Linked DNA regions of Homo sapiens: regions 2, 3 and 4 are each linked to region 1. Evidence: fine-mapped expression QTL. A gene starts in region 1. Each other region holds a variant in brackets. All regions are shown on one strand. Distances are between the middles of the regions. Region 1 holds the start of EFCAB8 (EF-hand calcium binding domain 8). Region 2 overlaps DNMT3B (DNA methyltransferase 3 beta). Region 3 overlaps EFCAB8 (EF-hand calcium binding domain 8). Region 4 overlaps EFCAB8 (EF-hand calcium binding domain 8).

Region 1 (2,754 bases):
TTCTGATGATTCTCATGCCTCAGCCTCCTCAGTAGCTGGGATTATAGGTGCACGCCACCATGCCCAGCTAACTTTCGTATTTTTAGTAGAAACAGGATTTCTCCATGTTGGCCAGGCTGGTCTCAAACTCCTTGGCCTCAAGTGCTTTCCGCCCGCCTTGGCTTCCCAAAGTGCTGGGATTACAGGCGTGAGTCACCGCGCCTGGCCAAAATAAAATGCCATGTAAACCAAAGAAAGGCTAAGGAACTGTTAGAGATGAAAGGTGACTCAAGAGACCCAACAACTAAAGGCAATGCACGATTCTGAATTGAATCCGATTGGGAAAAAACAAAAATGCTGCAAGGGCTGTTATTTGGTGAAATTATGTAAAATTTGAACATGGACTCTATATTATTAGATAGCATATTAATGTTTTCTGCTTTTGATAACTGTATTGTGGTTATGAGAATGTCCTTGTTTCAGGAAATGTACACTGAAAAGTATTTAGGGGTAAAAGGGCATGATGTCTGTAATTCTCAAATGGTTTAACAAGTAACATGTATAATAACACAAATGTGGCAAAATGTTCACAATTAGTCTATCTGGACAAAGGGAAGTTCTTTGTAGTAGTCTTACAACTATTTATATATTTTTAATTATTTCAAAACTAAATATTTTGTAAGATAAATGTCTTTCACCAGGAGAAAGTGGTTCTATGTATGTTCATGAACAGAGGTAAAACGCCAAATGGGAAAAAAAGTGCTGGTTGCTGCCAACAGAGACCACCCAAAAGAAAAGGGCAAAAGCAAGAGGGGAGAGGCCAAGACAAGTACCATTCCTCCAACTCTGAAGGGAAGGAAGGGAAGGCTGAGATGTAAAACTCGGTTGATATTTAGAATTGGAGAACAGGTCAGATCAGAAGTCACATCCATCTGCCTCAATCTATTCCCTAAAGTTGACCTGTCCGGAGCTGACGGAAGAGGGGCAGGGCAAGGCAGGTGGGAGAGTACCATCCAGAACAGGGGTGAGAATTCAGAGCAGCCACTAGGGGAACATGCTAGGGATGAGAGGGGAACGAGTGGTTTGTACGAATTTGTAGAGGCAGATGACTTAAGGATACATGCATTGAAAGCCAGCCAGGACACAGATAAGAGCTGCTCTCCAGCCTTGGAGGTCAGGCAGAGGTCTTCAGCAGAGGTATCCAATCTTTTGGAGAGCAACTTTCACCTAAAACCCTCACTCACCCTGACTCAATTTGATCTCCTCAGTTAATCTTGCTGGCAAAGTCTGGCAAAGTGCTAACACTTTCCAACTCCCATCTCAACAAAGACATTGGCAGCTGTTCCCAGTCCAAGACAGCTCCTTTATGAAGTCGAGATGGAACTCTGGGTCTGCTGGTCATATTTAGAACTAGGGAAATGAGACAGAATTCCGTATGAAGAACATAAATGAAGCATCAGAACCCGTCCCACAAACCATAATCACAGAACCATTTTTCATCCAATTTGAAACATTTCTTTTATTGAAGAAGTTGAACTTACAGCAGACAGTGAAAGGAGTTACAGCACTCCAGGACAAACACAGACATAAAATAATACATAAAACAAGTAGCGGGAAACTGGAAGATGCCAGGGAGTCCTCTTATAAAAGCAGGGTTCACCAAAACCAGAAGGCCAACTGGCTCCAGGACAGCGAAAGGCACAGTGGCTCCTCTGCTCCTCTGCCTTCTGCCCCATTTGAAATGGGGGACTTACAAATCCAGACTTCAGGGCAGGCCTAGACTTGATGCAGCCACTGCAATCTTGGTCCATGGTGCAATTTGGCAGACAAGTTGGTGAAAGGTAAGTTGTCTCCAGAGATTTCAATCAGGGACGTGGCTTCCAGATGTTAAAAGATACCCAGCTAAGTCACAAGGAAGTGGATGTTTTCAAATGCTAAGTGACCACCAAACAAAACATTCTCCCTGGGCCTTCACCACTCAGAGAACACCAACATACAAAAACAAAAGTCTGTTCCCATTTCATCAATAATGGAGTTTTAAGGATTTTGTCATAGTGTAGAATATTAAGAATGGATGAATAAAAAGTCAAAAAAGGTGCAGAGGTCCTATAAATCAGGGTTTATTAGACTAGATATTAATAAATTGGAAGGGTTTAAAAAAAAAAAGGCTGTTGGCCCTACATATGACAGTTTCCCATTGTTTCTTAGCTTAGTATATTTATTTTCCAACACAATGTTAGCAATTCTTACAGCAGTTCTTGCATTTTTCCAATAACATTTTTATTAATCAAATGGTATATATTTTTCACTATAACCTATTTTCACTGATTAATACATTTATCAGTATTTTAATGTGGCCTAAAATATGCTAAATTCTGTCACAATAAATATGTTTTTCCCTCCCTGGGGAGAAACACAAGTAAAAAAAGGAAAATATTAAGATGCATTCCACTTTTTAGTTAAGGAAAAGTTCAGAAAACTCCCATCTTTTTAAAAAAGAATGAAAATATGATCCTAAGTAACTCAGGTTAGAAAAACAGTAACAGAGCCAGGCGCAATGGCTCACGCCTATAATCCCAGCACTTTGGGAAGCTGAGGCAGGAGGATCACTTGAGCCCAGGAGTCTGAGATCAGCCCAGGCAACATAGTGAGACCATGTCTCTATTAAAAAAAAAAAAAAATTAAAGAGAGAAAAAAACAGTAATAATAAAACAAGTGGGGAGGAGGACATTTAGAAGAAAAATCTAGATAAACCTCTGCACAAAAATAATTTTG
Region 2 (2,500 bases), 54 kb after region 1:
ACAGGGAAAAGTTGGTTTTTCCCCTGTTTGATCGAGTTCGACTTGGTGGTTATTGTCTGTACTTTCTTTAACTGGAGAACAAAATGACATCATGGAGTGAGCACAGAATGAAGGGACCTGGGGAGTCAAGGCTCAAAAGTACCTGGGAAAGATGGAGGGGAGAGCGCAGGTGCGGCAGAAGAGTGGCAGGGCTGGGAGAGAAAAGTACCTGGGAAAGATGGAAGGGAGAGGGCAGGCGCGGGAGAGGAATGGCAGGGCAGGGAGCGAAAAGCAGAGTTGGAGAGACAAGAACATTTTGTGCTTCCCACAAATGCCAAGACGTTAACAGGAAGGACCAGCCTCAGAGAAAATGAGATAAACAAAAAAGTGACCATGAACGAGATCACGTGGGGGGCCAAGAAGACACCAGAGTTCCTGATCAAGCAAGATTAAGTAAAAAAGTAAAAACCACCCAGATACAGAGAATGCTCAATTGGAGTTTAGAAAATGGATCTTAGCTTGATGCAAACATTGAGATTTAGGTTTATGGAGGTCTTCATATTCTATGACTTGACAGCAAATTAATTTTTTGGCAAAAGGATTAATGATTCCTTTCTCCCTGAGAGGGCCAGCTGAAACTCTTTGTCTTTATGTATCCAGTACTAAAATTAAAAAGACTAGTTGCCTTTTCTCGTCGTGATTACTTATCACGAATGTCTCCTAGTCTCTGTATTTGAGGATGGGACAGAACAATCATGTGGGAGAGGGAAGCCCAACACCAGGAAGTCACGTGGGGGGAGGAGTAGGAACCAATCAAACACCAAGGTCATCTCCCAAGTCCCCACTTGGAGGTCACCAAGTGCATTTTTCCAGAGGGCCACAGCTCGTCTTACCTTGGCTATCCTATTGTATTCCAAGCAGTCCTGCAGCTCGAGTTTATCATTCTTTGATGCTATCACGGGCCTGGGAACAGCCAAAACCCATTACTTCTTACTAGCTATAGAGGGTCCTCTGCTAGGCACAAGGTGGGAGTGAGGGTCTATGTTGCAGAGATGTGCCCTGGCAGTGAACTTGGCTACAAATAAATGATGAAAATGATCCTGGCATGAGCACAAGCCTGTGTGCCAAAGCCAAGGATGGGCTAGAGGGGACAGCCCAGCATCCAGGAGGTAATGCTCCCCTGCCTGGACTTCAAAGTCAGGTTCCCATTGAGCAGGAACACTGCATGGGGTAGGGCAGGAGAAACCTCAGGTCCCAGCTCCACACTGCTCACTGACTGAGCTTGAGCGAGTCACACTACCCCTTTGG[G/A]CTTCCTGTCTATTTTAAAGTGAGGAGCTTGGAATAGATTTTTGTGGGTCTACCTGATACAATTATCATATCACACCCACGGTTTGGTGGCTCACTGCTGGGGATACAGCCTCAGGAGGCTTTAAAAGTGAATGGCAACCGCCTGCAGTGGTTCCTACCCTTAATCCCAGCAATTTGGGAGTTCAAAGCAGGAGGATCGCTTAAGCCTAGGAGTTGGAGGCTACAGTGAGTTATGATTACAACACTGCACTCCAGCCTGGGAGACAGACCCTGTCTCTTAAGGTTCCAAAAAAAAAAAAAAAAAAAAAGACTAAGCACCCTTTTAACTTTCACCCTTGAAAATTATTTTGCAAATGCAGAGAGAGGCAAACAGATGACTAAGAAGGGCAAGGGCTAGAACTGAAAGTAGTTGAGCAGCTCCAGAACAGAAACTGGTGCAAGAGGACTGGACGCAGGGACGGCCATAGTAACCTGTGTTAGGAACGTCAAGGCCAAACAACTCAGACATGAGAACGGGAACCGTGCCTACAAGAGGGGCTGAGGAAATCACAACACATATTTCCCCTAGACTGATAGATTTCCTTGACCTCACCTGCCAGGCTTCAAATGCTACCTCTATCCCCATTCCTACCTCCGACATGGACCCAGGGGAGCTGAGGGCCCAGAAGAAAAGGACACTGCACAGCCCCGCCTTGTGCTGACTATAAGATTAAGCTCTAAACAAGCCAGATGACTTGGGTCTGTCCCCTAAATGATGCCTGACACACCCATCCTATAAGCCTGCAGAGCTTAGTCACAGCATCAGATCTGCATCAGGTCTCACTGCTCTTTCCACCTCATAGCCTACACATCCAATGCATCAGCAAATGTCCTACCCTCCACATATGTTGAATCTGATCCGTCCTTGCTAAGTCACAGGATTGCTGTGCTGCAAACCCCAGGGGCCACCACTCACACTGTGTTCTCTATGGATGGCACCTCCTGGGGCATAACATCATAATCAGTCATCTCTCCTTCTTTGAGCAGTCTAGTCCCTTCACTTGTCTCCCCATTCCCGCCTCCATCCTGTTATTGTCTATAATCCACCCAGAAACTACCATGAACCAAAGCACAATTCATCTCATCTGTAACTTCCCATGCCAAAGTGATTTCAGCGGTACCACATTAAGGCCCAAGTTACTTGGTCCTTCTCTCCCAGCCACCCCACCTAGGG
Region 3 (2,754 bases), 40 kb before region 1:
GGAGGCCGAGGCGGGCTGATAACCTGAGATCAGGAGTTCGAGACCAGCCTGACCAACACAGAGAAACCCCGTCTCTACTAAAAATACAAAATTAGCCGAGCATGGTGGTGCGTGCCTGTAATCCCAGGTACTCGGGAGGCTGAGGCAGGAGAATCACTTGAACCCGGGAGGCAGAGGTTGTGGCGAGCCGAGATCGCACCATTACACTCCAGCCTGGGCAACAAGAGTGAAACTCTGTCACAAAAAGAAAAAAAGAAAAAAAACCAGAAGTGGTGGCTTTTGATAACTGGGTCAGGGAATGGCGATTGAATAAGGAGGGGGCCCCTCAGGACTCCAACCTTCTTTATAATGTTTTCATTTTTTACATGGACAATGCATTTAATACATACTTGTGTGATTAATTGGTTTTTCTTTTTTTTTTTTTTTTTGAGACGGAGTCTCACTGTGTCCCCCAGGCTGGAGTGCAGTGGCGCAATCTCGGCTCACTGCAAGCTCCACCTCCTGGGTTCACACCATTCTCCTGCCTCAGCCTCCCGAGTAGCTGGGACTACAGGTGCTTACCACCACGCCCGGCTAATTATTATTATTATTATTATTATTATTGTATTTTTAGTAGAGACGGGGTTTCGCCATGTTAGCCAGGATGGTCTCGATCTCCTGACCTCATGATCCACCCACCTCGGCTTCCCAAAGTGCTGGGATTACTGGCGTGAGCCACCGCGCCCGGTGACTAACTAGTTTTTCAAAAGAAAAGAAAAAACTTCACTCTAGGGTAGAGGAATCTAGACTGAAGGAAACAGATTGGAACCATCTGCAAAGAACCAATGCTGCCAGTTACTGAACACATACCACAGAGGATTCCCTCATGCAACCCTTCAGGAAGTGAGGTACGTGCTTTCACACCCTTTCACAGATGAGGGAACTGAGGGTCACAGAGGAGAAAGTAACTCACAGTCATCCCTTCATTCAGAAAACATTTCACTGACTGCCAATCACTCTGTGCTGGCTTCTATGCTGAGTTTTGCATATAGATTGGGAGATAAAAGAGGCTGCTGTGTTCTCACCGTGCTGCTGCTGGCAATGCTGGAAAAACTAAACCCCAGAGTCCATACACCAACCACCATCTGCCACTGTCAGCCCCCATGGTCCACTCACCACCCCCCTCCCTTCCAGCCCCACCGCCTTAGCCAGGAGAGAAGCACTTCTTACCTGGGTTTCTTAGAGGCTTTGGCTGGCAATATTGTCAGCACCAGAGAGGACTTCTCGATGGCTGAACAGGAGACTACCACATTCATCTGGGGGATGAACTTGACCTGCTCACACCAGTTGGGATGGAGAGCCTGGGAAGACAGTAGCAATGGTGGGAGACTCCACCCAAGGACAACTTTCTAGGCCCAGCCCCCAGAACATGACCAGGTGCTGGGACTGGAGG[T/C]GCCCAGAGATCACGGAGTCTAATGCCCTTCTCCTAGTGATCACAAAGTGATGTGGCCCCGCAATCCTAGCCCAGGTCCTATGACCAGCACTGGCCATCTCTCGTCACTGAAAATTTTTAAAAGCACACAAGCCTACTTTCATTTGAAATCTTGTGAGTTAGAGGATGGGGAAGGTCAGGCCCATACTAATCATCTCCCACGAGGAGAGAAAGGATGAATTCAAGTCTGTCCAGGCCACAATCTAGTTATCCACAGGGAGCCCCCTCTACAGATGGGCTGTGCTCCCAGCCCACTGCCACCCTCCATGTTTGTCATAGCGTGGAGTGCTCAAGGAAGCGCGGAGGGCATGAGAATGTGCATTTCACGGCAACTTGAACCACAAAAGATGACGCGCAGTCGAAGGGGCTGGCTGGGCTCTGAATTCTCCGGCGCCAACTCTGTGACCTGGACCAGTGCTTGGCCTCCCAATCTAGAGATTTTCCTCTCTGTGACGAGAATGGAAAAGGCGGGTTGGAGAGATTGGCTCATCAAATATTTCTTTGGTGCTTTCTACATGCAAGACCCTGAGCTGGGTTTTACACACACTGTCACCAAGCATCTGTCGCAATGAAGGCACCGAATCCAAGACACTGAGTGAGACCTGGAGGGAAAACCAAGCCCAAGATGAGCTTCCCACAGAAGACAGAAGAGCGGGTGCAGTGGCTCACACCTGTAAACCCAGCACTTTGGGAGGCCAAGGTAGGTAGACCAGCCTGGGCAACATAGTGAGGCCCCGTCTCAAAAAAAGAATTAAAAAATTAGCTGGGTGTGGTGCTTGTATTCCCAGCTACTCGGGGGCCTGAGGTGGGAGGATCACCTAAGCCCGGGAGGTCAAGGCTGCAGTGAGCCATGATCGCACCACTGCATGCCAGCCAGGGCAGCAGAGTAAGGCCCTGACTCAACCAAAAAAAAAAAAAAAAAGTCAGTGCAGGCCTGTTGGATCACCCAGACCGCCCTGAGTGCGTCATTCATTCATTCATTTGTGCAGCAAATGTATTGGGAGCCCACCAAGCGCAGGGTACTATTTTAGGCACTGGAGACAACCGAGAGCACGAAGCCGCTGCCGTTGAGGAGCTGTCGATCTCGTGAAGGTGACAGCATGAGGAATCAATGGTCGGACCACACAAAGCTGGGAGCTGGTAAACACTGCGGGTGAAGGGATGAAAGCAGAGGTGGGCACAGGGTTGTCCTAGGAGGGCTGCTTGGGACCACAGGAAGTAGATAGGGGGAATACAGGTACCTTAGGGGAGAGCCCCGCGGCCTGAAGGCGCAGCACATGCCG
Region 4 (2,754 bases), 83 kb before region 1:
GTACACATTATTCCATTTGAACCTCACAACCTTATAAGAAGTATATAATTCTCACTGACTTACAGAGGAGAAAAGTGAGAGTCAGACATGTTCAATAACTAGCCTAAGCCCACATAGCTAGAAAGTGATGGGGCCAGGGCAAGAGCCTCAGTCTTCTAAAGTTTTTCAGCTGGGTATTGGGAGATGAATAGGGTGAGCAATGGGGTGATAAATCACATTACACTGAGAGAATAAAACTACTGAACTGGAAAATGAGTGAAAATGACCATTTTTAAATAAAACAAGATTAATAAAGGAGGACTTATTCGACCATATTCAAGTATGGAAAGTCAGAATAATAAACTTTAAATTTTAAACAAAGCAATGGAAGACAATAGAAAGCTCAGAAACCAACCCAAATGTATGTAAAACTGGTATATAGTAAGAGTGGTAACAGAAAACATGACTCAATAAACAGTAGTAGGATACCTGATGAACTATAAGAGAAACCTACGTTGTTATCTTTTATCTTACACCCAAATGAATACTAGATGCGTTGAAGATTTTATTTTCAATGAAATCATAAAACACCTACAAAAGAACGAATCAGTATTTATCTTTTCTCTAAGAAAGTGATAAACAGGCAAAGGAAAATATCACAATGGGGACAAAAACTGACTTGAACACCAAAAAATATATTGTAATTTTTAAGTCATCATAAATAAAATTAACAAGCAAATGACAAATTGGGGGGGATATTTGTAATCCATATGATAGACAATCAGTTAATCTTTTAATATATTTTTATTGGTTTTTTTTTTTAGAGATGGGGTCTCACTATGTTGCCCAGGCTGGTCTCGAACTGTTAGGCTCAAGCAATCTGCCCACCTTGGCCTCCCAGAGAGCTGGGATTACAGGCATGATCTACCATGCCCAACCTAATGTATTTTTAAATAATTATACAACATTTATAAAAGATAGTTACCACAATAGAAAAGTAGGCAAAGGACATGAAGAGACAATTCATAAAGTTATACAAAGCCAATAGATTAAGAAAATATGTCAACATCACTAATAAACAAAGGCATCTTAATTAAAATCAAAAGAAACCATTTGCACCTAAAAATCAACCAAAAATGTTTTGCTCACTTAGGACATTTATTTATTGAATGCCTTCTATAAGAAAGACACTCTGATAGACCTAGAGGATCCTCAGATGAATACCACTAATAAATTCTTTAGGTTGTCAAAGATAAAAAAAACAGGCTAATGAAATGCAAAACTGTATAAACCTTCTAGAGTGCAATTTTGTAGTATACATTAAAGGCCTTAAAGTGACTTATGTTCTTTTACATACTCTTTCCTTGGGACAAATTACTAGATGTACAAATAAACAACTATAAACAACAACAAAAAACATTTGTGAAAAAGAATATTTGTACCATCATTTTTAGTAATATCTAAACACAACTTTATTGAATCATAATTCACATAAAAATTTACCAATTTAAAGTGCTCATTCAATGGTTTTTAGTATTTTCAGAGCTGTGCAACCACCACCACATTCTATTTTAGACCATTTCATCACCCCAGAAAGAAACTCTTTACCCAGTAGTCACTA[C/A]GCAATTTCCCCAACTCCCTCCCCCAGCCTCAGGAAACCACTAATCTACTTTAATATGGACATTCTGGACATGTCATTTAAGCAGAATCACACAATATATGGTATTTTGTGGTTGGCTTCTTTCACTTAGCACAGTATTTTCAAGGTTCATCCATGTTGTTGCATGCATCAGTACTTTATTCCTTTTTATTATTAAATAACATTCCATTGTATCACCATACCACACTTTATCCATTTGGAAGTTGACATTTGGGTTGTTTCCACTTTTGTATTATAAATAATGCTACTATAAACATTCATGTACAAGATTTTATGTGAACATATGTTTTCATTTCTCTTGGGTATACACTTGGGAGTGGAACTGTTGGGTAATATGGTAAGTCTACACTTAATTTTTGAGGAACTGCCAGACTGTTTTCCAAAGTGACTGCAGCTTTCTATGTTCTTTTTCTTTTTTTTTTTTTAAACAGAGTTTGGAGTTTTGCTCTTGTTGCCCAGACTGGAACGCAATGGCATGATCTCTGCTCACTGCAACCTCCGCCTCCCAGGTTCAAGCGATTCTCCTGCCTCAGCCTCCCGAGTAGCTGGGATTACAGGCACCCGCCATCATGCCCTGCTAATTTTTGTATGTTTAGTAGAGACGGGGTTACACCATGCTGGCCAGGCTGGTCTCAAACTCCTGACCTCATAATCCGCCCACCTCAGCCTCCCAAAGTGCTGGGATTACAGGCCTGAGCCACCGTACCTGGCCAGCTTTCTACATTCTATCCAGCAATGTGTAAGAGTCCCAGTTTGTCCACATCCCAGCCAACCATTGCTATTATCTATAGTTATCCTGGCAAGTGTAAAGTGGGATCTCATTATAGTTTTAATATGCATTTCCCTGATAGCTAATGATGTTCACCATCATTTAATATACTTATTAGCCATTTGTACATCTTCTTTGAAGAAATGTTTATTTAGATCCTTTACCCGTATCTTAATTTGGTTATTTATCATTTTTATCAAGTTGCAAGAGTGCTTTATATATTCTGGATACTAGTCCCTTATCAGATATATGATTTGCAAGTATTTTCTTTCAGGTTACCCTTTCACTTTCTTGACGGTATCCTTTGCAGCCCAAAAGTTTTTAATTTTGACAAAGTCCAATTTAT

The links. PIP is the estimated chance that this variant, and not a neighbour inherited with it, causes the effect. A credible set is the group of variants that fine-mapping cannot tell apart.
Region 2: its variant is the best candidate, but not a certain one, in a credible set for the expression of EFCAB8 in whole blood (TOPMed, PIP 0.58).
Region 3: its variant is the best candidate, but not a certain one, in a credible set for the expression of EFCAB8 in whole blood (TOPMed, PIP 0.52).
Region 4: its variant is the best candidate, but not a certain one, in a credible set for the expression of EFCAB8 in whole blood (TOPMed, PIP 0.67).

Annotation. Positions count from the first base shown.
Region 1 is chr20:32,857,476-32,860,229 of GRCh38, reverse strand. It overlaps EFCAB8 (EF-hand calcium binding domain 8), which reads right to left and starts at 1,307. Exons shown (of 27, transcript NM_001143967.2): 1 at 1,224-1,307. LOC119746555 (a long non-coding RNA gene) reads right to left here. Exons shown (of 1, transcript NR_171378.1): 1 at 1,479-2,754. RefSeq lists an enhancer at 628-1,440.
Region 2 is chr20:32,803,780-32,806,279 of GRCh38, reverse strand. DNMT3B (DNA methyltransferase 3 beta) reads right to left here. Exons shown (of 23, transcript NM_006892.4): 21 at 873-942; 22 at 1-71. Among named protein-coding and RNA genes, the nearest start is that of MAPRE1, 15 kb to the left of the region's middle. RefSeq lists an enhancer at 1,452-2,265. The variant G/A (reference allele first, on the strand shown) is at 1,288.
Region 3 is chr20:32,897,079-32,899,832 of GRCh38, reverse strand. It overlaps EFCAB8 (EF-hand calcium binding domain 8), which reads right to left. Exons shown (of 27, transcript NM_001143967.2): 11 at 1,210-1,340. Among named protein-coding and RNA genes, the nearest start is that of EFCAB8, 40 kb to the right of the region's middle. The variant T/C (reference allele first, on the strand shown) is at 1,433.
Region 4 is chr20:32,940,569-32,943,322 of GRCh38, reverse strand. All of the region lies in intron 22 of EFCAB8 (EF-hand calcium binding domain 8), which reads right to left. Among named protein-coding and RNA genes, the nearest start is that of SUN5, 62 kb to the left of the region's middle. The variant C/A (reference allele first, on the strand shown) is at 1,601.